Homo sapiens: one gene and its partners. The protein of the gene in region 5 purifies or fractionates together with the protein of the main gene of each other region. This does not show direct contact. Each region holds a gene or a part of one and is shown on either strand. Other genes may lie near its edges. The genes, in order: MYH8, MYH2, MYH1, TNNT3, TSPAN33, VKORC1L1 and DDR1.

Evidence for each region.
Region 1: the proteins of TSPAN33 (region 5) and MYH8 purify together in Homo sapiens (affinity purification with mass spectrometry; one large-scale study listed by BioGRID and IntAct). This does not show direct contact.
Region 2: the proteins of TSPAN33 (region 5) and MYH2 purify together in Homo sapiens (affinity purification with mass spectrometry; one large-scale study listed by BioGRID and IntAct). This does not show direct contact.
Region 3: the proteins of TSPAN33 (region 5) and MYH1 purify together in Homo sapiens (affinity purification with mass spectrometry; one large-scale study listed by BioGRID and IntAct). This does not show direct contact.
Region 4: the proteins of TSPAN33 (region 5) and TNNT3 purify together in Homo sapiens (affinity purification with mass spectrometry; one large-scale study listed by BioGRID and IntAct). This does not show direct contact.
Region 6: the proteins of TSPAN33 (region 5) and VKORC1L1 purify together in Homo sapiens (affinity purification with mass spectrometry; one large-scale study listed by BioGRID and IntAct). This does not show direct contact.
Region 7: the proteins of TSPAN33 (region 5) and DDR1 purify together in Homo sapiens (affinity purification with mass spectrometry; one large-scale study listed by BioGRID and IntAct). This does not show direct contact.

Annotation. Positions count from the first base shown.
Region 1 is NC_000017.11:10,419,151-10,423,133, reverse strand, and holds the start of MYH8 (myosin-8), read left to right. Parts: upstream 1-1,183; 5' UTR 1,184-1,204; intron 1,205-1,427; 5' UTR 1,428-1,471; intron 1,472-2,876; 5' UTR 2,877-2,906; coding exon 2,907-3,116; intron 3,117-3,983. UniProt on the Homo sapiens protein: Muscle contraction.
Region 2 is NC_000017.11:10,529,159-10,532,658, reverse strand, and holds part of MYH2 (myosin-2), read left to right. Parts: intron 1-770; coding exon 771-1,026; intron 1,027-2,584; coding exon 2,585-2,827; intron 2,828-2,918; coding exon 2,919-3,095; intron 3,096-3,177; coding exon 3,178-3,323; intron 3,324-3,406; coding exon 3,407-3,497; intron 3,498-3,500. UniProt on the Homo sapiens protein: Myosins are actin-based motor molecules with ATPase activity essential for muscle contraction.
Region 3 is NC_000017.11:10,498,043-10,501,542, reverse strand, and holds part of MYH1 (myosin-1), read left to right. Parts: intron 1-43; coding exon 44-433; intron 434-790; coding exon 791-917; intron 918-2,450; coding exon 2,451-2,569; intron 2,570-2,720; coding exon 2,721-2,917; intron 2,918-3,500. UniProt on the Homo sapiens protein: Required for normal hearing. It plays a role in cochlear amplification of auditory stimuli, likely through the positive regulation of prestin (SLC26A5) activity and outer hair cell (OHC) electromotility.
Region 4 is NC_000011.10:1,918,233-1,922,502, forward strand, and holds the start of TNNT3 (troponin T, fast skeletal muscle), read left to right. Parts: upstream 1-1,470; 5' UTR 1,471-1,530; intron 1,531-3,129; exon of another isoform or gene 3,130-3,387; intron 3,388-4,270. UniProt on the Homo sapiens protein: Troponin T is the tropomyosin-binding subunit of troponin, the thin filament regulatory complex which confers calcium-sensitivity to striated muscle actomyosin ATPase activity.
Region 5 is NC_000007.14:129,158,207-129,161,706, forward strand, and holds part of TSPAN33 (tetraspanin-33), read left to right. Parts: intron 1-3,472; coding exon 3,473-3,500. UniProt on the Homo sapiens protein: Part of TspanC8 subgroup, composed of 6 members that interact with the transmembrane metalloprotease ADAM10.
Region 6 is NC_000007.14:65,953,074-65,956,565, forward strand, and holds part of VKORC1L1 (vitamin K epoxide reductase complex subunit 1-like protein 1), read left to right. Parts: intron 1-1,000; coding exon 1,001-1,227; coding exon of another isoform or gene 1,228-1,340; 3' UTR 1,341-3,492. UniProt on the Homo sapiens protein: Involved in vitamin K metabolism. Can reduce inactive vitamin K 2,3-epoxide to active vitamin K, and may contribute to vitamin K-mediated protection against oxidative stress.
Region 7 is NC_000006.12:30,887,519-30,891,018, forward strand, and holds part of DDR1 (epithelial discoidin domain-containing receptor 1 isoform 2 precursor), read left to right. Parts: intron 1-1,169; coding exon of another isoform or gene 1,170-1,211; coding exon 1,212-1,296; intron 1,297-1,389; coding exon 1,390-1,492; intron 1,493-1,683; coding exon 1,684-1,912; intron 1,913-3,364; exon of another isoform or gene 3,365-3,454; coding exon 3,455-3,500. UniProt on the Homo sapiens protein: Tyrosine kinase that functions as a cell surface receptor for fibrillar collagen and regulates cell attachment to the extracellular matrix, remodeling of the extracellular matrix, cell migration, differentiation, survival and cell proliferation.

The DNA of each region.
Region 1 (3,983 bases), on a different chromosome or scaffold from region 5:
AAATACATATGTAAATGTACAGAAAAGGTCTGCAATATTACAAACTAAACGGGTATCCGTAGTTACCTTGGGAGAAAAGGGAGATACCAGCATTGTGAGTGTTCATCAAAGGGAAAATTTAGCCTAATCTCTAAGGCTTTAATTTTTATGTAATTACAGTGTAAGAGGTTACACACCTGCATATATTTATCAAACCCATAGGCCTGGAATTGTTCTGCATCCTATCTGTGGTGGTGGCTACATGAATCAATACGTGTATAAAAACTCATACAATCATACAACAAAAGAAGTAAATTTTATTATAAAGTTTAAAAATTTTTAAAAATAAAAGCAAAAAACCTCATAAAACTGTCACTTTAAAAGGGTGAATTTGACTCTATGTAAATTATACCTCAATATATCTGACCTTAAAAAAAGGAAAGAGTTTAATTAAAAAAAATCATAATTTATTTAAAGAATAGGGTATAAATTACATTAGTGATATGATATATTAATTATTAAAGCATATTACAAGGCACACATGTACTATATATGCATCTATAATATGATCCCACTTATACGCCTCTATCTTATTTCTGCATTAGAGATTACAGAGACTTTTTTTACTTACCTGTATTTTTTTCTGTAATAAACATATTATTTTCTACTAATAATGTTTTTCAAAGTTAGATGAGTGGGCACTGGCCCAATGGTGGAGACTCAAGGTAGAATCTCTGCTGTCTAAGCCTGGACTTCAAGAGTGAGCATCTGTAGTGGCCCAAGGGAATGCAGTGGGGGGTTCCCGTGGTAGCAAATAAGGAAACGTGCTTAAGGCCCTGACAGCCGTGTGCCCCGGGTATCTGATCATTTGGCTACCACAGGCGTGCATGAAAGAGTTTGCCAAATTGAATATAGCTCTTAAGAACTTACTCTGAGGCCCCATCAGGCACTGTCAAAGATTCCCTTCCCAGCACACTAGAAAGCATTCTCTGCTGGCAGATCGGTCTCTGTCAAATTATTTATAGGAGATTGGTTTGCATACACAAAATGATATGAATACTTCTAATTATATCCAAACATGACAAATGTCACTACAAACTATGCTGAGGGTTCATGTTGCCAAATGTCTTGCCCTAACAAAGAGGAGGTAGTTGCAGCATCAGCACATTAGTTCCTATATAAGCAGGACTGCCCCTTGTGCCTTATTTCCACCAAGAACCCAGAGGTAAGTGATGAAGGCCTTGGAACTCGAAAAACCCCAGGTGGGGAAAAGAGCTGACCTCGTAGTTATCTGTGAGCATTAAACTGCTCTCTCAATCTTAACTTTTGTCTTCATAGAACCAAGCTTTGGGGTAGGGAAACTTCAATTCTGTAACTATAATAACAATTCTGTAACTATAATATTGGAATTTCGGAGCATCACTAATAAGAAGCTTGTTGTTTTACAGAGTGGAACACTTCTGAACCTGCATTTTTATCTGGAACTCCAGAGGTAAGACTTGGCTTTATTAATTTATTGATGACAGAGGGGATATAGTCTAATGAAGCTGTGAACAATCCTGAATTATACACCATTTCCATGTTTTTGCAGTTATATCAGGAAAGAGTGTTTCCGAGTGAGTGTTTATAAATGCTAGAAAATAACTTTTTCAAAATGTCTTCTTCTCAGAGACTATCCTCATTTGGGTTCCAAGATTCAAAGACCGTTTAGGACAGAATTAGCTTCAACAGTGAGTTCTCAGCTGTGCTTAGAACTGTCCAGTGGCAATAGACTAGTCCATGCCAGTCTTCTTCTATGGCAAAGCATTGAGGACTTAGGACATTTTATAGACATTTTTAAAGACTCCAGAAAGATTTTTACCTAGAAATATAAATATAAATATTTTAGCTACCTTTGATTATTTGTTATTTGTTGTTAGAAAGACTTATTATTATTTACTTAACAGGTCGCAAGTATTACATCCACCGGGTGTTAAATACCATGACTAATTTAAGAGGAATCCTGCCCTTCCCTAAGTAACTTTCTAATTGAAAATAAAGGAAAAACTCAACCAATCTAACATGTCCACATTGCAGAGGCCTATCTATTAATCAGAAGACAATGGCTTACATGCATGTGATGTACTCTTAAAACTTTTTTCTCTGTTTTCTGGGTGGAAAGAAAAGAAACCCATGGAATTTATGTGGGAAGAAGGGCCTTTGTGCTGAAGCTCTCATTCCTCTGTGGTTAGATCTGTTAACTGACAGCTGAAATCTCTCATGTCAAAAAAGATTTTGGAATCAAGGCAATGCTAAGTCTGTTGGGAACAACCCAAATTACAAAAAATCCAGAGTATTAGAATGTATTATGTTCTTCTAACAATCCACTGAGAGATACAACACCAAATATCAACATAAAGATGTTAAAAATAATTATTTGCTTTATGAGAGAAAATGGCCATCTTAAAAGGCAAAGATTTTTTGATAGCTTTGAAAATATGAACCTTCATTTGAACAAGACAAACTTTCTTTTCTCACCATATGATTGTCCTGGCATATGGCATAGACAAACATTATGCAGAAAGAGGAGAGGAAATTAAATAATGACAGTTGCTATAAAACAATCCATCAATAGTTTTAGCTGTAGAGGTTTCATTCTAATTCAATTGTAGGTACCCTATCCCTGAGGATCAAGATATGTGATCTGAAAAGGAAATTCACAGTCCTAAAAATGAAATCTCAAATTACAGTCTCACTCCATACTTGTCCTTTAGACTATGTTAGAACACTGGGGAGTGCCAGTTTGGAGGAATAGTTACAGCACAGGCTATGTTCAACATTTCTTTCATTTCAAATCCTAACTCACATTTGTGACTTCTGCTTTTTATATCTCTCTCTCCCGTTTCTCTCCTCCCTAGGCAGAATCCTTTGCTAAATAAATCGCAGCCATGAGTGCGAGCTCAGACGCTGAGATGGCTGTTTTTGGCGAAGCTGCTCCCTACCTTCGAAAATCAGAAAAGGAGCGGATTGAGGCCCAAAACAAGCCGTTTGATGCTAAAACATCTGTCTTTGTGGCGGAGCCCAAGGAATCCTATGTGAAGAGCACTATACAAAGCAAAGAAGGAGGGAAAGTAACCGTAAAGACTGAAGGTGGAGCAGTAAGTGAAAACAGGGAGAAAATACTCCCCATTTTATTTCTTGGTTCAAAAGTTGAAGCCTAACTTACTGGGAATCTCCAAGCCTGTTGCCAATGCAAACACCCTTCTAGTCAGTGTTGAGACATTAGATGTGGAAGGCAAAAGAAATTCACAGCAGTACCTTCATGTCTTCCCTTCCCAACTTCGCACAGGACCTCACCCCACTATGTATGGCCTTCACCATTTCCCTTCAATTCCCCACTTCCTAGTCTGAATGTCCAAACTTGAGGGAAATGAAAACAAGCTCCTCCTATCAGAAGTTAAATATTTACTTAGTTAAATAATGTATTAATATCCCCATTACTTCCAAAAACATGAAGTTTCTTAATGAATGAAAGAAAAAAATAAAAATTTAGCCTACTAAAATAAGAAAAAAAGGATATAAACTGATAAATCTGGGATAAGAGAATGTGGGAGGAAAAAATCTTTTAAAAAGATAGTGTCCTAGCTCATCATAGGAAACAGGTTTTCTTAACATTAAACTCTGAAATGAATATATTTCATGCCTTTTTTAAGAGGACATTAAATAATATAATGAGAAGTATGTGTGATTATAGTTTTGTACCAAAATATACAGGCAAACATAAACCCTACCTCCAACCATTAAAACGAACTGGTCTTAGCCAGGCGCAGTGGCTCACGCCTGTAATCCCAGCACTTTGGGAGGCTGAGGCAGGTGGATCACCTGAGATCAGGAGTTCGAGACCAGCCTGGCCAACATGGCGAAATCCTGTCTCTACTAAAAATACAAAAATTAGCTGGGCATGGTGATGGGCACTTGCAATCCCAGCTACTCAGAAGGCTGAGGCAGGACAATCACTTGAAGCA
Region 2 (3,500 bases), on a different chromosome or scaffold from region 5:
TACATCTACACATATACATATGTGTATGCAGATATATAAATAATTTATATGAAGCAAATTTTATTTTTACCACTTGTAATTATGCTAATATTTTCAACTATATTCCATTTTATTAAAAATAATAAATTTTGGTCATGATCCACGATATATATATATTTGGGTAATTGTCTATATATGGGGTAATTAGCTGTAAAAATCATTTAGATGAAAACAAAAGTGGTATTAGAGAATAGAATACAAAATTCACACAACATTAACATATAAAGCCAGATATTTTCTAAGAAATTCTGAGTTTTTAATATCTCCTGCCCCATATACCCCTAAAGAGCTGTGTTCCCCCTTCACTGCCCTTAGTGGTGTTTTAGTAGCAATGTTTGAGAAGCACTGACATACAGCAAGGCTTCTCAAAGGGTGCTCCTTGGACTTGCAACATCAGCATTTCTTGCAAACTTGTTAAAAGTGCCAATTTTCAGGCTCCACCCTAGATCTTCTGAATCTGAATCTGAATCTACGGAGGTGAGGTTCAGGAGTCAGTATTTTAACAAGCCCTTCAGGTGATTCTTATGCATGCCAAAGTTTGAGAAGCAGTGATGTAGAGAAATGAGTGACCTTAGCAAGACCTTGACCATCATCCCGAAATAGAATTTTTTCATCTGCATGTTTGAAAGCAGAGTAGGAACAAGGTGAAGCAGAACCTCCAACTCTCACTGCCAAGGTTTCATCCCATTGCATCAACCACACAATACTAATTTGCATCAATTAAATTTCAGGGAGGCCATCTTCTGTATCCAGTACAATATCAGATCCTTCATGAATGTCAAGCACTGGCCCTGGATGAAACTCTTCTTCAAGATCAAGCCTCTGTTGAAGAGTGCAGAAACTGAGAAGGAGATGGCCACCATGAAGGAAGAATTTCAGAAAATTAAAGACGAACTTGCCAAGTCAGAGGCAAAAAGGAAGGAACTGGAAGAAAAGATGGTGACGCTGTTGAAAGAAAAAAATGACTTGCAGCTCCAAGTTCAGGCTGTGAGTTGGAATATCACCCTTGGTATCACTAACCAGGATGCAGGTGCTAGAACTTTGGCCATTGTGGGCCATGAGTTGGGTAATTGCAAGGGAGACACTCATTGGAAGGAAAAGGTTAAAACACTCCAATGGCACGAAAAGGTCCAAACATTCCTCCATTGCCCAATAACCCCCAACAAACCAGCACCAGGGCAGTGAGGTAGAAATATCCCTCATTTTCCATTGTACACAATTTCATCAAACCACAAGATTTTTGACTTATTTTCTCTTTAAATACAGTCCATAAAAATGATTTTAATATGACACAATCCCAAATAAAATATGAAGGGGAGGATAGCATGGAGAGAGTAATATTTTTCGGAAACTTCCTTGAACTTCTAGATGTCCACGGGTCTTAAATTATAATAGGAACAGCTGACATATGACAGCACTCTCATCAAATTTTACTGAATTATCGTGTGATATTGATCTCAAAAACTCAGACTCCCTCTTTCTAATCTGTCTCCACAGTCAGTGTCCCATCATGTCACACCCACATTGCTGCATCAGCACCAAAGTTGCTCAGCCTACTTCCCAATTGTCTCTTCTTCCATCCAGCCTGCTCACTGCCCTCTCCTGAACCAATCATTTTAGAACTGCTTCCATCAACTTCAGACTATAATTTATAAGACTATGTTTTATTTGGAGTGAATTGAATTGGTCTACTTATCATAAAGTCATATTTTTTTCTGTTAAGACTGGTCTCTCTGTCAACGTTGAGCAGTATAATAACTCCTTCTAGATTACAGAAGGAAAAAGCCCTCCAAATCTACCCTGTATTCTCTTCTGTTGTCCCCAGAGATTTATGCAGAATCTGTACTAAACCACTGTATTCGTTACACAGTTATACATAGCACCCTGCATTCCTTAATGTAGTCAAAGACTGATATGGAGGATTACTGATGAGTATATATTCCAGTGTCTCCTTCATTTCCCGCCTGCCCTGTCCCCCTTAATTGGAAACAGCAGGTTGCCAGGAATTTCTTGATTACTTTATGTTTCAACTTGAATTTAGTACATCATAATCAGGAGCATCCTCCAGTACTACAAAAAAAAAAAATCAGTAGCAGCTGTATCTTGAATTTGTCCTGCTAGAATGCTTCCCCACAACCCTCCTGCTCCTCTCCACAATAAGTTGATTTCTGCAAAAGCAAATCCTACCCCTCTCTCAAGGCCCAAATCAAACAGCAATTCTTTCATGAAACCATCTCTGATCCAACTTCTCTGATCTGTTATGTCACTAATTGCTTTCTACATTAATGGTAGCTTTTGGGAAATAGGTTTTCTAATCTACTGTAGAATACATTCTTTTAGGGGAACAAAATGACAACTGGTACATTTTGGCTTACCCACATGTGGAAAATGTACACAGTAGGGTGGTTCATGAAACAAAAATTTGTGAAGGAGTAAACAAATGAATATAGGAAATTCAAAAGATCAAATGCAGAAACATACACTCTTATCCATTGTGAAGTATTTCATTCTTTCTTCCCAATTTTGATCTTGTTTCCAACTTAAGGAAGCCGAAGGCTTGGCTGATGCAGAGGAAAGGTGTGACCAGCTAATCAAAACCAAAATCCAGCTAGAAGCCAAAATCAAAGAGGTGACTGAGAGAGCTGAGGATGAGGAAGAGATCAATGCTGAGCTGACAGCCAAGAAGAGGAAACTGGAGGATGAATGTTCAGAACTCAAGAAAGACATTGATGACCTTGAGCTGACACTGGCCAAGGTTGAGAAGGAGAAACATGCCACAGAAAACAAGGTATCAATCATATTCTACAGTACTGTATAGAGGTTCTGCCACCCAACAAAGGTGCTTTATAGCAACTAAACTGCTTTCTTCACCTTTGTAGGTGAAAAACCTCACAGAAGAGATGGCAGGTCTGGATGAAACCATTGCTAAGCTGACCAAGGAGAAGAAGGCTCTCCAGGAGGCCCACCAGCAGACCCTGGATGACCTGCAGGCAGAGGAGGACAAAGTCAACACCCTGACCAAAGCTAAAATCAAACTTGAACAACAAGTGGATGATGTAAGTCTGGTATCATCAAGGACATTCTTTTCTTCTAAAGGAAGATAAGCATTCCTTCTGATTCAACATAATTTATATTTAGCTTGAAGGGTCCTTGGAGCAAGAAAAGAAACTTCGCATGGACCTAGAAAGGGCTAAGAGGAAACTTGAGGGTGACTTGAAGTTGGCCCAAGAATCCATAATGGACATTGAAAATGAGAAACAGCAACTTGATGAAAAGCTCAAAAAGTAAGTAAGAAAGAATTGCTTATGGATTTGCTTCCAACATTAGATACGGACTAAATTGTTGTCCTTTGCTACTTTTCTAAAAGGAAAGAGTTTGAAATCAGCAATCTGCAAAGCAAGATTGAAGATGAACAGGCACTTGGCATTCAATTGCAGAAGAAAATTAAAGAATTGCAAGTA
Region 3 (3,500 bases), on a different chromosome or scaffold from region 5:
ACCAAGAAGTTGAGTTCGTATTAATATTTTTCACCATTCCCAGGCCCGCATTGAGGAGCTGGAGGAGGAAATCGAGGCAGAGCGGGCCTCCCGGGCCAAAGCAGAGAAGCAGCGCTCTGATCTCTCCCGGGAGCTGGAGGAGATCAGCGAGAGGCTGGAAGAAGCCGGTGGGGCCACCTCAGCCCAGATTGAGATGAACAAGAAGCGGGAGGCTGAGTTCCAGAAAATGCGCAGGGACCTGGAGGAGGCCACCCTACAGCATGAAGCCACGGCGGCCACCCTGAGGAAGAAGCATGCAGATAGTGTGGCCGAGCTTGGGGAGCAGATTGACAACCTGCAGCGAGTGAAGCAGAAGCTGGAGAAGGAGAAGAGTGAGATGAAGATGGAGATCGATGACCTTGCTAGTAACATGGAGACTGTCTCCAAAGCCAAGGTACAATCAACACTTCACATTGATTATTTGGTTTTTTGTTTTTCCCTTTAGCACAAATATGATTTGTATCTCAAAAACGTCTCATGAACTAAATCAGGCACCCTTTTTCTCATATCACGTATAGTACAACTTAGTAAAGTAGTTAGATTAACAAGTAATTCAGTGGCTGTATGCTTGGACTATGTATCTTATTAGTCTTTCCATTCACTATCTAAGACCTTTGCTGGTTTTGTTTGTAAAGATAGTTTCTTCTCAAAATAAATGAGTACTGCAGCTCATATGGAATGTTTAGATTACTGAAACTTTCTTTGGTCCAACTACTTACTTGAGATGCCTTCTACCACTTTTTGAATGCAGGGAAACCTTGAAAAGATGTGCCGCGCTCTAGAAGATCAACTGAGTGAAATTAAGACCAAGGAAGAGGAGCAGCAGCGGCTGATCAATGACCTCACAGCACAGAGAGCGCGCCTGCAAACAGAATCAGGTGGGCCATGTACCAGTACTGACCTTGAATGACAAATTCACCCTGCATGTGTAATCCACTGAAAAACTCTGCATTTATTTACTTGAGGTCATATACTACCTCCCTGGGAGATCCCCACTAATATGAACACATTATTGACCACTGGCATGAGGTTGCTTTCTTTCATATATATACGAGAGAAATATATGTGTATATATATGAAACATATATATCCATATATATATTTGTATATATATCCATACATACATATATATATATATATAAAGAGAGAGAGAGAGATAAATAGAATCAGGCCCTTCTATTTTTGAAGACTTTAAGGGAGACTTGGCTTTAATCAAAAAGTTATCAAAAACAAAGTGCATCCTTACAGTACCTCTTTTCACTTTTCAAAATGCTTTCGCAAGCTATGTGTTACTTTATTTTCCTCATTAGTCTGTGTAATACTATCCCCATTTTAAAGACAGTGGATTATGGTAGTGATGAAGCAACTTGTCCAAGAATGTTTACTCCAGTCTTTTTCCTGAAGTCTTGCCAATTACTGGTAACTAACACGGTTAAGTAGGGAAATATTCAAGACCACAACCCAGCTGAGAAGCATTCAAGTAAGATTTGTAGATTTTTGATTAGAGAAATTGGAAAGTCTCTGCATTTATTCCCCCTCCTACTGACGTGTCCAACTTTCTACCAGAGTTGTATCTCCCCAGGTAGAGGTAACAAAATGGAAATTGTTTTATGGGTAATTTAGGCTATTAAAGTAATAGGCAGGTTAAAGTGTTGGAAAATCACTCTACACTTTTGGTATTCAAATACTATTCTTTCTATAACAAAGTTCAGAATAAATATTTATTATAATTCTTATTAAATGCCAGAGATAAAGTTCAAGATAACTAGTATAAAAATGGTGTGGAAAAGTTTTACTATCTTTCTAACATAATGTAGTGCATTTTCTGCATTATGGTGCTTAAAAAATTGAAGACATGTGTAAATGCCATTTAGTTTGGAAAGTACTTATCCAGAAACCAATTCATTCTGGGGATGGGAGACCACTTAATCATTTCTTAATATAAAAATCTTTCCAGAATTTCTCTTGACTATCATTTCTACTTACAGAAGACATTGCCCAAAGTCTCTTATTTTCCACAGTATAAATCCTTTGTTTCAACCAACTTTCAATGGAAGGCAAATTAGACAACACTACTGCCTTACATAAAATAAAAAGTACTAGAATATTTTGTTGGCTTGATTTACATTTTTTTCATGTTTCTTCATCAATTTTGACTACGATCAAATAATCGTAAATATCTCTTGAAATCTTTTGTGCTGTTCACAAGCATGTAATCTGCCTCAAATTTCTCCATGCTTCTAATTTTTACATGGATCTGCTTATCAAGGTTAAAGCGGATGTTGGTGGTTTGTTGTCACCCATGCCCTCCATCAAGTTTCAAACTTGGCTCCCTTTCCCTGCTCAAGTTTTTATTTTAGAGTTTTAATTTCCAAAGTAAGGTTGAGTTTTCTGGACTTGGTCTTTTACAGGTGAATATTCACGCCAGCTAGATGAAAAGGACACACTAGTTTCACAGCTCTCGAGGGGCAAACAAGCCTTTACACAACAGATTGAGGAACTGAAAAGGCAACTTGAAGAGGAGATAAAGGTAAGCTCCACTTGTCATTCTTGTCATTATTGTTCTTGTTATTTGTTTTTCGCTTACTTTTACAGACTTTCTTCTGGTGGCCTATAGGAGATCAGGAATCAAACATCACTTTAAATATATAAAATTAAGTCATCAATCTCTATGTTCTCAGGCCAAGAGTGCCCTGGCACATGCCCTGCAGTCCTCCCGCCATGACTGTGACCTGCTGCGGGAACAGTATGAGGAGGAGCAGGAAGCCAAGGCCGAGCTACAGAGAGCAATGTCCAAGGCCAACAGTGAGGTTGCCCAGTGGAGGACCAAATATGAGACAGATGCCATCCAGCGCACAGAGGAGCTGGAGGAGGCCAAGTATGTTCCAGACTTAGTTAAAATGGAACTATAAGTTTCCTTGCTCCCAAAACATATGAAAAACTAGGGAAAAAACATTCTGGGACCATATACAGCCATATTGTTGGAATTAATGTTTTGGTAGATGCCTTAGAAGAGATTCTGAGAGGAGTTCTCGATGCAAAATGTATATTGATGTGGGAAAGCTTCTTTATTATTAATGGATTAATTAAAAACTAGCACAAATAAGGGATACAATTAGACAGACAAAATCAAGTATATTTCATTTGAATTCAATTTATCCAACATTTGAGCCCTTAATATGTTGGACAGCCTACAAGAATACAAAGATTAGTACAGTACAGACTCTCCCTCTGGGGATTAAAATTATGTGGAGACACAGAAAAACAAACCAGTAATTCAAGGTAGATATTAATATTCTACAGAAGAGGAATAAACCAGCTACCTGGAAGGGTAAAGTGTTAGCTCATGCTTGTCATGGATGGCCTTAAAGCCACTCTATGAAGTATGGCAATACCAAAACTGGGGTTGTTTTTGGTATTTGGTGGTAGGATAATGGGAATGAGTTAATATAGAACTGGAC
Region 4 (4,270 bases), on a different chromosome or scaffold from region 5:
CAGGAGGACGGCGACGTTCCCAGCAACCCCAGCTCCAAGAGCCTTCCCAGTGCCGGGCACTCAGCGGGAGGCAGGCAGGGGACCGGCCCTGTCCTTTGAAATGGCAGCCTGGGGCCAGCCCGCCTTGTCGTGTGACCCCAGGCACACCTTGCCTGTCCCTGGGCTCTGCGGCCTCGCTCTTCCATGGAGGGGTGGAATGAGGTGCCAACCACAGCCTTCCGGAAGGCCCCCGACCCGGCCCCAGGGCACTGTGAGCCCCTGCCGGGTTATCCTGTTGTCCCTGACTCTAAGCCTGGGGAGGACAGGGACCTCATCTGTGCCTCTCGGGACTCACCCCTGTCCTGGGCGCTGGCCAAGAAGGAACCAATCTGTGCCTGAACCGAAGAGTTCCGCAGACACCACCGCCCACGCTCAGCCTGTGGGGTCTGAGGGGAGTGAGGGGGTGGGTCAGGGTGCCAGACTGCTCTCCCCCACCTGGTGCCTCAGTTTCCCTGATCCAAGAGGCAGGGTTATCCAATCTGGTGGCCTCACTGGCCAGCATACAGGCCATCAGAGGCCAGGAAGGATGTCTGCTAGTCGGACGGTGCCACCTGGAGTCCTGAGGAAAGAAAACCAGTCTCCACACGCCACAATGAGCCTGTGGGAGATGCTGGCACAGATGGTAACGGCCACTGCGAGTGCCCAGGGTGGGGCCCCAGGGTTAGAAAGGGCCTAGAGGGAGGACCCAGACCCTTACCCAGCAAACTCCATGTGTAGCCCCCTGCAATGGCAGCAGCCCCGGGGGGAGGTATGGCAGACTCGGACTGCAGCCAGCCTGGCCATGTCCCTCGCCCGCTTATTGTGTAGGCCCCAACGGTGTCTAGCCAGGAAAGCAGAGCTGGCCTCTAAGAGGGTCTCAGATAGGGTGGGGGCCTGGCCTCAGTTCCATGGGGGGTCTCCGAGGCCTCAGGCTGCTTCCTCCCCGGGGGAGACAGCGAAGGGCCTGGGGCATTGGGCCGGGCGGCGGGAGGGGACCCCGGCTGTGCGGACCCTTTTCCTGGACAAATGTTTACTCCCACAGAACATCTCAGAGAGAAGGGGCGGGGGGGTGGGAAACCCGGCAGCCTGGCTCTGGGGACCCCCACACTAGTTTGGCCCAAAGAGAGCCTCGGCTTGGTGCCCCGGGGCCACCCAACACCTTCCTCCTCCCTCCTCAGCCCATCCAGAATGTACCCGCTGCTGGGAGTAAAAATAGCAGCTGACACCTCCTGGAGGCGGAGGGAGGACCTTGCCTCCTTCTCCAAGCACGTCCTCTGCATCCTGGCCTCCTTCAGCCTCCTCCTCTGGCCATTCCTATACTTGGTAAGGGGCCTGCACGGGCATAGCCCCCCCCAGCAAGACTCCGCACACACCCCGGCCACCCAGTCACTGGCCAATGGGCTCCTAGGAAGATCAAATGTCACTATAACACGAGGGTGTGAGCCGGGCGCCAGTGCCTGCAGCCGGTGCTGTCCACAGGGAGCTCCAGCCCTTCTCACACTCGACCCGCAGGTGGGTATAGGCAGGAGCGGCCACCCAGGACTGGGGCCGACGGGGCCTCCTGCGTGCGGGTGGACAGCCCCTCGTTCCAGGGACACTCTGGGGTCCTGGGGCGCTGAGGTCCCAGGTCCGTGTGGTGCCGAGCATCTCGAAGCATCATGGCTCGGAGCCCCCAGGTGGCTGCTCCAGCGTCCGGAGAGTCTGGGATGCGGACATGGTGGTGTGATGGTCTCAGCACCGGGAGGATGCAGAAGAAGGCAGAGTGTGGGAGGCCAGGAGGGGGCAAGTCGGGGCTCAGGGAAGCTCAGTGCTAGGGAGTGGCCTGAGGGCAGGAGGCAGAGAGGTGCGGGCTGTGAGCGGCAGGGAAGAGGCTGTGCAGGGGTGCTGCCAGGGCTTAGGTTGCCAGCTTGTGGTCGCCATGCAGACATTTGCCCAGGCCCGTCCTGGCCTTGCCATGCAGCTCTCGCACCTGGGCCTCCAACACCGCCATTTTGTAGAGATGAAAACGAGGACAGGAGGGCAGGGGCTCCTGTATGGCCAGCCCGAGTGTGTTGGGGTGGGGGCGTCTAAAGCCCACGCAGCCTTGGGGGCCAGCGTCTGGAGGTGCAGGACAGAAGTGGACAGGGGCTGGACTGGGGCAGGACGGGGCAAGAGTGAGGGGCTGGGCTTCATCGCGTCCCCCTGGCTGGAGGCTGGAGAAGCTGGCGCTCGTAAGAGCCCCCACCCACCCTCCCTGCCCTGGACACGGTCCCCCTGACTTGTGCCGTCTGATCAGGCCTTGGCTGCCCCTCCTGAAGTCCACGGAGGGACATGGGGCAAAGCAAAGGTTGGCTGGGTGGAGAACAGGTCTGGGGGCATGGTCAGGGCCACAGCAAGCAAGGGGCAGCGGCTTTTGCCTCCCCACCCTGCCCTGGCCCCGTCACCTCCCAAGGAGGGAAAGGTGATGCATACGTGCCCGAAGAAACTGACCGCATAGGTTATTTTCACGCAGCCCCTCCAAGGCAGGCACTAACTGGACACCTGCTTTGCGTCTCAGCTGTTGAAATGCCATCCCCTGCCCCCAGCACACCCCTGCCCCCAGCACACCCCTGCCACCAGCCCCTCCCCGCAACAGAGGCAATGACACAGGCCATACTGGGGGGAACAGAACAGCCTTGTGTTGCTTCCAGGCGCTCAGCAGAAAACCAGGTGCCTCAGTTTCCCCACTTGGAGAGTGGGCCTTTCCAGCGCACGTCGGGGGGCCTGGAGGTCACCCTGCCTGAGGGTGTTGGGGCACCCATGTGACTCTGGCCTGGGGGGACAGGAGGGAAATATGAGGAGCTGGGGAGGGCCTGGGTGCCCGAGGGTGAGGGGGCAGCTGTGGGCCAAGGAGGGCTGGGCTGTCACACCCGCCTCACCCACGTCTTGGGTTTCTGGGCAGAAACGTCTTGCCTATTTCTGGACACCTCAGCTGCCACTGGCTCCTTATAAATAACCCACCCCAGGCGAGGGCCACGCTGCCCCCATCTTGTGGCAGCCGACAGGTGTCTGCCCCGCCAGCGTCGGGCTGGGCACAGCAGGGCGGGGCCAGGCTCCGCTCCCTCCCTTCACTGACCCTCCTCCTCCTTACAGAGGATGGCCCTAGAGGAGTCTGTGGCGTTTGGGGCCTGAACCAGCTGGGAGGACAGCACGAGGGGCTGGTGGGCAGCCTGGGACTGGGTCACACCGGGGGCCTGGACAACACTGGCTCGTGGGGCTGAGGACTGAGGAGAGCCTGGCCCAGCCGTGGCAGTTACAAGAGGCTTAACCTGAGGGGCAGCAGAGTCTCAGGAAGAGATTCTGGGATAGGAAAAAGCTACCCCCGTTGCCTGGAAGACAGCTATCTGCTGGGTAATTTTGCATGGAGCTTAAGTTGCTCTGGGAAAATTAACATTCTTGACAGAGGGTTTGGAAAACGGTTCCCACCTCAGCAGTGCAACGTAGATGCATTTTTAGCTGATGAACGTGTGTTTTCCTTATACAACACTCCCAGGGGGGACCGTAGCTATTGTCTTCGAGTAATCTGTACTGTGTTGTAATGAACTTTGTTTTCTAAAACCCTGGCCAACATGCCGGTGCAGCTGCTCAGAGCCTCCCCAGGCCTGGCCGCCCAGTGTGCACGGTGGCCAGCTCACAGAGAGACGGTCCCCAGCATGCTGGCCTGGCGCCACCACCGCACATGGACAGGGCAGCCAGTCCTGGGCATGGAGCTTCCCCTAGACAGGGACAGATCCAGAGCATCCCCGGGACCAGGGAAAGCGGCCACAGGGAGGGAAATGGGGGGGCTGTTCTGTGGGCTCCTGCAGTCCAAGTATGCCTTGTACAGAGCCCGGCCCGGGGGGGTGCACGGGAAGCGGCCCAGACCCAACCCAACGTGCTCTGGGGCTCAGCCTCAATGTTTTCAGGGTACAGGGGTAACAAGAAGGAACAGCTTCCCTGCTCTGTGATCTTGGAGGAGGGGTCCTCAGAGGGGTGTGGTGGGACACACTCTGGGCACCCCATAGGAAAACAGGCACAGAAGGGAGCTTTGGGCTCAAATAGGGAAGAGGGGTTCTCATGGGGAATGGTAGGGTGAGCAGATTACTCATCTTGGGGAGCCAGTCTCGGTCATCCAGGGGCTCCCAGGGAGACCCCACCTACACCCACTGGGCAGAGAACACCCAGAGACAGGTTTCAGCTCCATCAGCGGGACCTTTCCAGTGTCTAGAGCGGGCTGGACGGCACACGGCCTGCA
Region 5 (3,500 bases):
AGCTCAAAATTCTTAATCACATTTGCAAAGTTCCTTTGGCCATGAAAAGTAACACAATCACAGGTTCCAGCAATTAAGACGTGGACATCTTTGAGGGGACATTATTCTCTCCACCATAGATAGAGACAGAGCAACTGCTGTCATTACAGGCCCATAAATACAGTTAACTTACTCTATGATATGTGGCATCTCTTTACTTTGCCCATTTTTTCAACTTTTATTTTAGGTTCAGAGGTACATGTGCAGGTTTGTTATATAGGTAAATTATGTGTCATGGGGTGATATTTCATAACCCAGGTAATAAGCATAAGTAGTTTTCCGTCCTCTCCTTCCTCCTACCCTTCACTCTAAAGTACATGTGGCCATGTGTACTCAATGTTTAGTTCCCACTTACAAGTGAGAACACATGGAGTTTGGTTTTCTGTTCCTGGATTAATCTGCTTAGGATAATGGCCTCCAGCTGTATCCATGTTGCTGCAAAGGACATGATTTCATTCGTTTTTATGGCTGCGTAGTATTCCATGGTATATATGTACCACATTTTCTTTTCTTTTTTTTCTTTTGATATAGAGTCTTGCTCTGTCGCTAGGCTGGAGTGCAGTGGCACGTTCTCAGCTCACTGCAACCTCCGCCTCCCGGGTTCAAGTGATTCTTCTGCCTCAGCCTCCTAAGTAGCTGGGACTACAGGCATGTGCCACCATGCCCAGCTAATTTTTGTATTTTTAGTAGAGATGGGGTTTCACCATGTTGGCCAGGATGGTCTCAATCTCTTGACCTCATGATCCACCTGCCTCAGCCTCCCAAAGTGCTGGGATTACAGGCATGAGCCACTGCACCCGGCCCCACATTTTCTTTTTCTTTCTTTTTTTTTAGAGATGAAGTCTCACTCTGTTGCCCAGGCTGGAGTGCAGTGGCATGATCTCGGCTCACTGCAACCTCCGCCTCCCAGGTTCAAGCGATTCTCCTGCCTCAGCCTCCCAAGTAGCTGGGACTACAAGTGTGTGCCACCATGTCCAGCTAATTTTTGTATTTTTAGTAGAGATGGGGTTTCACCATGTTGGCCAGGCTGGTCCCAAACTCCTGACCTCGTGATCCACCCGCTTTGGCCTAAGTGCTGGGATTATAGGCGTGAGCCACCGTGTTTGGCCTGACCCCACATTTTCTTTTTCCCGTACTGTTGGTGGGCATTTAGGTTGATTCCATGCCTTTGCTATTGTGAGTAGTGCTTGTTTGGCCTTTCTTGTTTTAGCTGTGCTACGATTTAATCAGATACCATCTTTGTGGAAAATTATACACCCTGGTGAAAATTTGACATGAAAAACAATGAGAGCCTGGAAGCAACAGAAATCAAGAGCAGATACACATTTTTCAATAGTTCAGTAAAATGACACTCAGAACTGTAATTGGCTGCAGTGGGTTTTAAAGGGCAGACAGAGATGCTCACTGACTCTGGTGGAGGACTGGCCACCAGGCCTGGGGAATGACTGGCATCTCTGTCATGTAGTTTCCCTGCCTCCCCCATGCTCCGTGAGCCTGGCAGTGCTGTGGGACAAGGCGCCAGCTGGCACCTGCAGCTCTGCTAGCAGCTCCCACCCTCCTGGACAAAGAGTATGAAGGCCAGCAAATAACACTTTGGGCCCTGAGTTAGAGGCATGGTCAAATGATGTGAGGTGGGAAGAGACCGGGGCCAGCTGAGTGTGGTGACTCACACCTGTAATCCCAGCACTTTGGGAGGCTAGGGTGGGAGGATCAATTGAGCCCAGGAGGTCAAGGCTGAAATGAGCTATTATCATGCCACTGCACTCCAGCTTAAGCAATAGCACAAGACCCTCCTCCCTCACCCCGCAAAAAAGAGGGGGCTGTATATACAGGCAGAGAAGAGTTCTGGAAGACGTGGTTTTAGATAAAGGTTTGCCATTTACTGCTGAATGCACCTGCCCTCCCCTGCCAGATGGCAGAGGACCTTCAACAAGGAGGCCTACAGGGAAAAATGAGGGACTCATCTGACCCTATTACCTGTTCTGGGGGCCTAGCTCCCTTCTTCCACCAAAGCCCCATGGTGGCTCTTTCCAGCTGCTTTCCGTCTTGCAGGACAGTGGTGTCTAGCCAGCCATCTCCTTCCCCACTGAGTTGGTCAAGACCCTGCTGCTGAGAACTCTCTCCTGCCAGAGCTTGGCCCCATCTGTTGCCATGGCAACAGCCAGCTGCTGCTTAGCACCAGCCTGGAGACTGGGCACAAAAAAAGGGTGGCCAAGGGAAGTAGGCACTGGGGCTCTCCTGCACCCCTGGAGGCCTGGGGGCTAGGGGGTAGATAAGGCCTCTTTGGGGTCTCCTATTAGTCTCTGATGGGTTTGTTCTCTCAGGGAGAAGCCAGGAAATTTGAAAGATCTAAACTCCTCTCTATTCCTCCACACTGGAATCAGAGTTTGTGAAGATAAAGGTTCCTTTGCCAAGGCAGTTCCAGTGCTTACATACATGCACTCACACACAGTCCTTCACATTGGAGTGCACTTTCTTTTTGTACTTGACATGATATTGACCTCTAAGAGGGTTAGAGAGCTGGGAGTATGCAACCGCCCAGGCCTGCTTTAGGTATAAAACCTGTCCTTTGATGCAGATAGATTCGAATTCAAAACTTTTCCATTTATGTGTGACCCTGGGCAAGTTAACTATTAATAATGATAGATAATATTTATTGTCAGGCATTGTGTTAAATTATTTCCATGCATTATTTTAGTTGGTTCTTACAGTAATCTTGTCAGTTGTTTGTTCTTACTTCCCATCTTCAGATACAGAAACTGAGGCTCAGAAATTTGCCCTATGTGTACCCAAGTTTGACTCGCTCTGAAGACTGTGTCCTTTTTAATTTTAACTTCAATTTATTAGAGACGGGGCCTCACTCTGGCACCCAGGCTTCAGTGCCATGGCACAGTCATGGCTCACTGCAGCCTTGCACTCCTGGGCTCAAACCATCCTCCTGCCTCAGCCTGCTGAGTAGCTGGGACTACAGGTGCACACCACTGCACCCAGCTAATTATTATTTTGTGTGTGTGTCTAGAGACAAGCTCTCACTATGTTACCCAGGCTGGTCTCAAACTCCTGACCTCAAGTTGATTCTCCTGCCTTGGCCTCCCAAAATGCCCAGCCTGAAGCCCATATTCTTAATCACTCTTCAGTATTAACCTTGGATTGCCTTAATTTCCTCATCCGTAAAATAGGCATAATGTCTGCCTCACAACCTAATTGTGTTACGAGCACTGAATGAATAATGAAAAATATGATGTGGGTAAAAGTGTCTCATGGAGGTAAAGCCCTGACAGATTCTATCAGCAGAATCACTGGGGAGGTGAAAGATGCTCACCTTTGGGTCCCAGGAAAGCAGTCCTTCTCCTGCTCTCCTAGGTTTCTCATGGCATTCAGGGCTCTCTGGTTTCCAGAATCTCAGGGTCTGGCTCTTTTCCTGTCTCCACAGGTGATTTCCATGGTGATGGTGGCTGTGG
Region 6 (3,492 bases), about 63 Mb from region 5:
GGCATGAGCCACTGTGCGTGGCTTCAGGTGCCTTTTTGTATTGAGAGCCTGGATTTAGCACACATGTCCACCATTTTTCTTGATCAGGTTTGACCCACATGCAGCCAACGGGCAAAATGTGGTTTCCCTTATCCACCAGGGTGAGCCCTTCCTGAAATGTTTATCAAGAGTTTCTTTTTCTCTCTTCAGCAGCTTGTTGGTGTAGTCACCTCTCATTGTGGATTTTTAATCAATTTGATCTAAACATGGAAAAGCAAATTTTACTTTCCACAGATGGGCAGGATGTAGTGAAAGTCCAGAGAAGGTTCTCACCAAATGTGTGCAGCTCGGAAGAAAAAGGTTGTGGTCCTCATGTCCCGTTATTCATTTGGTGTCTTGGGGCTGTTGATGTTACAAGTCAGCTTCATTGCTTAATGTGATTGTGAGATTGCATGTTTTCTTTGTGTGCATATTTTCAACTAGGCTAGTTTGTGAAATTAGTAATGTTTTACCTGAAAGATTGAGAAATCAAAAACATCACAGCTATAAAACTGGCATTTGGCTGGGTATGGTGGCTTATGCCTGTAATCCCGGCACTTTGGGAGGCTGAGGCAGGAGGATCACCTGAGGTTAGGAGTTGGAGACCAGCCTGGCCAACAAAAAATCAGCCAGGCGTGGTGGCACGTGCCTGTAATCCTGGCTACTTGGGAGGCTGAGGCAGGAGAATTGCTTAAACTCAGGAGGTAGAGGTTGCATGAGTTGAGATTGTGCCACTGCACTCCAGCCTGGGCGGTAGAGTGAGACTCCATCTCAAAAACCCCAAAACCTGGCATTATCAACTGCAGAGTCAACCTGTATAATTTTAACAAAACAGAGCAGTATTTCTGTTCTCAATTTTCAGAGTTGGCAGGAAGATCAGTATTCAAACACTGCAGCAAGTCACACAGTGTTATTCCTTGTCACTCAGAAAGCCTCTCTCCAGCACCAAGGCCTGACTGAGCCTGCGTCTCTTCTCTTACAGGCATGACAGCAAGCGCTGTGGCGGCTTTGATCCTCATGACGTCCTCCATCATGTCGGTCGTGGGGTCCCTGTACCTGGCCTACATTCTGTACTTTGTGCTGAAGGAGTTCTGCATCATCTGCATCGTCACGTACGTGCTGAACTTCCTTCTTCTCATTATCAACTACAAACGACTAGTTTACTTGAACGAGGCCTGGAAGCGGCAGCTGCAACCCAAGCAGGACTGACGCCCGACAGACTCCACCCTAACAGTCTCAAGCCCCTTTCCATTCAGTTTATTTTGCAGCAGGTTTTTATTATTATTATTATTATTATTATTCACAACAGACACTTTCCCTAAGAATCTCAAACTGATTTTTAAAAATCCGGTAAATTAGAAGGGGCCCTCGCTATTTTCTGTGTCAGTCTTCATTTTAAATATGGATACAAAAAGGATACGCCGAGCCAATCAAAGACAAGCTTTAACTTTACTTTGAAGTGTTTCTGAAATGATAAAATGTAGCCCTAGCCCCCTGCCCTCAATTGTAAAGTGAGCAACCATTGCTAGTAATTCTTTAATGTGTATAAATTCAATTTCAGGTATAACAAATGTGATCATGACATGAAAATATTCTAGAATAGATACTGTATTAAATATTGCCATGTTTACAATATGTAATATGTTTTTAGCCGATGGATTTAAACATGTAGATTCAACTAGAATCCATTTGTGATATTTGTAAATAAAGGTAGAAATATTAGATCCATTTCTGCAGAACTTACTGTACAGTTTAGTTGGAGTGTAGCACTGAAGAACTGTCAGCTCAGCGTTGACTGAGGAGATAGTGAAAATAGCCTATACACAGCATCTTGTGAAAAGTACTGGCAGCCGTGGTTGCAGCAAATAATAGGGCAAAAAAAATAATAATAGGGTGGTCGGTTCCCTTTCATCTCCCTCTTCTGAAAGGAAAAAATTGAATTGGAACGTTCAAGTCCAGTTTGTGTTCAGTCATAAAACTGGGCCAGTTGTTAACCTTACAGAATGAGTCATGTGGCCAGACCTTCAAGTCCAAGGCCTTCAGACACTAAGGATGGGAAAATGGGTATTTTTCTTTGGAGAAAAGCTGGAAATATAAACATGGCATTTTTAGGTAAAGTTTCTTCCACTAGTTGAATTTTCATGCAGATATTTTTCCTTAACGTTGGTGCCAGTCAAGCAAAGAGTATTATGATGGAAAAGACCAGTCCAAGCCCCATCGCTCCGGAGTGGGAGCCAGTGTTCTTGCTAATTGTTTCTTTCTGCACTAACCACTCAGATGTCTAATTTAATTGTTTTGCAGTCAAATACTGGATTTGTAACCTTCAGGGCTGACATGCTGCCCAGTTTGCTTCATCGGGAGAATAGCAACAGGTAGACACATCTCAAGGCTAAATCTGCTCATGTCGCCACTGCTCTCATAATGACACACATGCAGTAAGAAGACTTTTGTAAGGGGATTTGAGTACACCCAAATGAAATTGTGACAGGATGTTTGTATGGTTAACATCTGATATCAGAATGTTAAAAGTGCCTTCTGTCTTAAATCTCAAACCAAATATTTTGTGTGTTGACCTTGGGCAGAAGAAGTGTCCTTCCCTCCTTTCTTCACCGTCAGGTAGAAAACCTGCACTCTGCAGAAGGGTCCTGTGTGATCACTTAATCCTCTGGTTGAGAAGCAGCAGTAATGTTTTTGCTTCCAACCTGATTAATCATTTTATGTTGAAAATAGTCAATGAGACCAGTATCTCTTGAGTGCTTTATTTGCCTTCTCTTTGAAGGGAGGGGACGGGCTCTGCTCTGTAAACTCAAATGTGTAGAGTCAGCAACAATTCCGTAGCTTCCAACTGACTCAGAATTGATGCAACGTAGGTCTTCTGGCCCGAGGCAGGTATCAAGTCCAAATCATAATGAACTTTTCACCAGTTTCAACCAGTTTCTTAAAAGAGAGCTTAAGTCAAGATTTCATCAAGACTTGTGTTTTCCCATGAATGTGAATCTTTCAATGGCTGTTGGAGTATGTATGTACTGTTCTTGCATTCTGAAGTAGTTAAAGAACTCTAGAAAGTACTGATTGGCCATCTGGTGTCTATGGAGAAAGAAGTCCTCACGTTTGAGGGCTGTACAGTGAGGCCATCTTGTAGCAGCGCATCCAGCTCTACCAAGGCAGTCCTCTGGTTCTTTTTTCTAAGCTACAGTGGAAATGGCCTAATGGTTAAAACTGTGGTATACATGACATCGGTTGTGCTAAACAAGTTCCTCGTGTCCCAATATCCAATGGTTTTTCATCCTATTTTGTATCAATCAACAGAGTATAGTTAAAGCTTGTCTTGATGTTGCATTCTTGCAAATGTCTTCAACTCTTACCTGAGAAAACATGGCAAAATGGTCAGCCAGACCCTTCCAGTTTTTCCTTTGCTTTTCTAAGCCTCGGGGAAACCACTGTTTCAGTTGTATAAAAACTTTTGCCACATTC
Region 7 (3,500 bases), on a different chromosome or scaffold from region 5:
TTTCAAAAGGTGGGATATTTTTTATACTTCTGTTGCTTGCTTTTCATATTCAACAGATATACATGGAAATCACACAAAGTTAGGAATATATTGCCTCTTTGTTACTTTTCATAGCTGCATAGTAGTCAATAAACCTTATTTTTTTTAATTCCAGCCTGTCCCCTGTGGGCATTCACATATCTTACAGATTTATGTCTTACAAAAGGTACCATAATAAACATCTTTGAAATCTTCTTTTTTATTTTTATTTTTCACTTTTTTTAAAGAGATGGGGTCTCACTATGTTCACCAGGCTGGTCTCTAACTCCTGGCCTCAAGTGATCCTCCCATCTCGGCCTCCCAAAGTGCTGGGGTTACAGGCATGAGCCACCAGACCCAGACCTGCACATATGTTCTTACTTCCTGGTGCTTCTCTCTCGAGGGAATGCTGGGTCGAAGAGGATGTGCATTTTTAATTATAATAGACATTGCTAGATTGCTTTCCAAATAGAAGATAACACTCATTTCTGCCATTGAGCATGGTGCCTCCCTTTTCATCACTTTCTACCACTTTTATATGTTACAGCCTTAAAAAAATATCTTGTCAGTCTGCTTGGTATTTCCCTGAGGCTGGTGAATTTGACCATTAAAAAAAATGTTTGTTGGCAATTTGGCTTTGCTTTTCTGTGAAATGACTATTCACATTCTTTGGCTGTTTCTTTATTGGGTTACTTATATATTTTTTCTTGTCAGTTCCTAAGGGGCCTTAGTTTATTGTAGTTATTAAACCTTTTCCTGTTGTATGTGTTATAAACATTTTTTGCACACTTGTTGTTTGTTCTAAGCCGTTGTTTATGGGGATATTTTGCCCATTCCTGATTGGAGAAATGGGGCTTTAGGAAGTTATTTAACTGATCTCTGCCCTAGTTTCTTCATGTGTTAAATATGGATAGTAATAGTATCTACCTTATGAAGTGACTGTGAAGATAAAATTATGGATTCTGTTTAAGGGTTTAGGCCAGTGTCTGGCACAGGGGAAGCATTCTAAAAATATAGCTGATGCTGTTAAACAATGACTGTTGTTGTTGTTTTACTGTTATTATCCCCAAAGCGGCCCATTCTGTCTGTTGCTGTCAGCTATGACTCAGTCCCCTGATTAACTTACGCACCACCCATTTTATCCCCTGCAGAGATGCTGCCCCCACCCCCTTAGGCCCGAGGGATCAGGAGCTATGGGACCAGAGGCCCTGTCATCTTTACTGCTGCTGCTCTTGGTGGCAAGTGGAGATGCTGACATGAAGGGACATTTTGATCCTGGTGAGGAGACTGAATCATGGGTCCCTGAGGGCCAGGGCTTGGGAGGTAGAGAGTTGGGGGCCTTGACCTGTTACATGCCTGCTTTTTACTCAGCCAAGTGCCGCTATGCCCTGGGCATGCAGGACCGGACCATCCCAGACAGTGACATCTCTGCTTCCAGCTCCTGGTCAGATTCCACTGCCGCCCGCCACAGCAGGTACTTGGCACACCTGGCACACTTGTAGCTGCCCCGAGAGGAGCTCCTGGGACCTCTACTTCCCCTCCAACCCCTCTGCCCATGCCAGTGAAACCCCTGCAGGCTGAGGGGGCAAATGAAGTGGGGTTTAAATACTGGAGATGGAGGCAGACCTGGGGCCAGATGTTCTCTGTGCCCCTCTTCACCCTCAGGTTGGAGAGCAGTGACGGGGATGGGGCCTGGTGCCCCGCAGGGTCGGTGTTTCCCAAGGAGGAGGAGTACTTGCAGGTGGATCTACAACGACTGCACCTGGTGGCTCTGGTGGGCACCCAGGGACGGCATGCCGGGGGCCTGGGCAAGGAGTTCTCCCGGAGCTACCGGCTGCGTTACTCCCGGGATGGTCGCCGCTGGATGGGCTGGAAGGACCGCTGGGGTCAGGAGGTGAGACTGGCAGGGGCAGCACCCAGAGGAGGTTGGCTCTCCTCACTTCCAGCTGTACTTTAAACACCACCTATACGCTGACGACTCTCCAGTTTATATCATCTCCAGACTAAGCCTCTCAGCTGAGCTCCAAACAATATTGTAAACCTGGCCACCTTTTGGATTTCTCCACTTAGATGTCTTTTTTTTTTTTTCTAATAGATGGGGTCTTGCTGTGTTGCCCAGGCTGGTCTTGAACTCCTGGGCTCAGTGATCCTCCCACCTTAGCCTCCCAAAGTGCTGGGATTACAAGCACTGTAGCCAGCCACCTAGATGTCTAATAGGCATCTCAAACGTACGTTTAACTTCCCAAGCTGAATTTGATTCCCATTCCCAGCCTAAACCTGCTCCTCCCCTGGCATTCTCCAGCTCAGGAAGTGGTATCACCATTGCCTGGTTGCCTAGGCTATAAGTTAAGATGATATCCTTGATTCCTTTTTTTCTCTCACCTCCTTCCAAAGCATCAGCAGCCCCGTCTGTTCTACCTCCATAGTGTTCCTGAGTCCAGTCACTCCTCACCACTCCACCTCTACTGCCCTAGGCCACCTGCCCGCCATCTCCAGCTTAGATGAGTGCAGTAGATGCCAAACGCGTCTCCCTGCTTCTGCCCTTTTCTGCCTGGAGTCAAATCTCCACCTGGGGGGGCGGCATCCAGTGGACCTTAGAGCATGTAAATCAGATACGTCACACCTAGCTGACACCCCCATGCTGGCTTTCCACTCTGCCAGAACAAAAGCTGAGTCCCTAGCTGGTGCAGGATGCTCAGCCTGACCTGGCTCCTGCCTGCATCACTTGTTTCTTGGCGCCTCCTTGGCCACGCTGCCTTTCTTCTTGTTGCTGGAACAAGCCAGGGCTCGTTCCCACAGCTTCTGGACATTTTCTCTGTGCCTGCAAAGCTCCTCCCCTAAATAACCACAGGCTCTCCCTCACTCCATTCAGTTCTCTGCCAGGTGTCACCTCCTTAGAGAGCCTTTTCTGGCCACCCACCTCACTGCTCTGTCCATACTTCCTGCCTCTTGTTCTTCGCAGCTGTTTTCCCTGCTGGGATCTCAGTCCTACAAGGGTGGGGAGTGACGTTCACCACTGAGAACGCGCCTGGCACAGAGCGGGCACTCAGCCAACTTCTGCTGAATGAACAGAGGGAATGGGCTGAAATGAAGGGGAAGCTGAGGCAGGGGTGCAGGGCTGTGAGGATTGGGGAGAATCTGGGCACAATGGGATGATAGGCTTGGAGACAAATGGATGGAGCCAGGCAAGGAGAAGAGGGCAGCTGAGCCTGAAGTCTGAGGATGGAACATCAGAGCTGCGACAGAGCCAGAGGTCTCAGCTGCAGATCTTCATTTCACCCATGCCTGGCTGCGCCCCACAGTGCTGTGTGCTCGGTGCCACCCCTCATGGGTCTCTAAGTGGCCACTGTGGGCTGGGCCAGGGAGCAGCTGGTGGGTGGGAAGTAAGATCTGACCTGGACTCCATCCCACCCACCCCCTGTTTCCTGGCCCACAGGTGATCTCAGGCAATGAGGACCCTGAGGGAGTGGTGCTGAAGGACC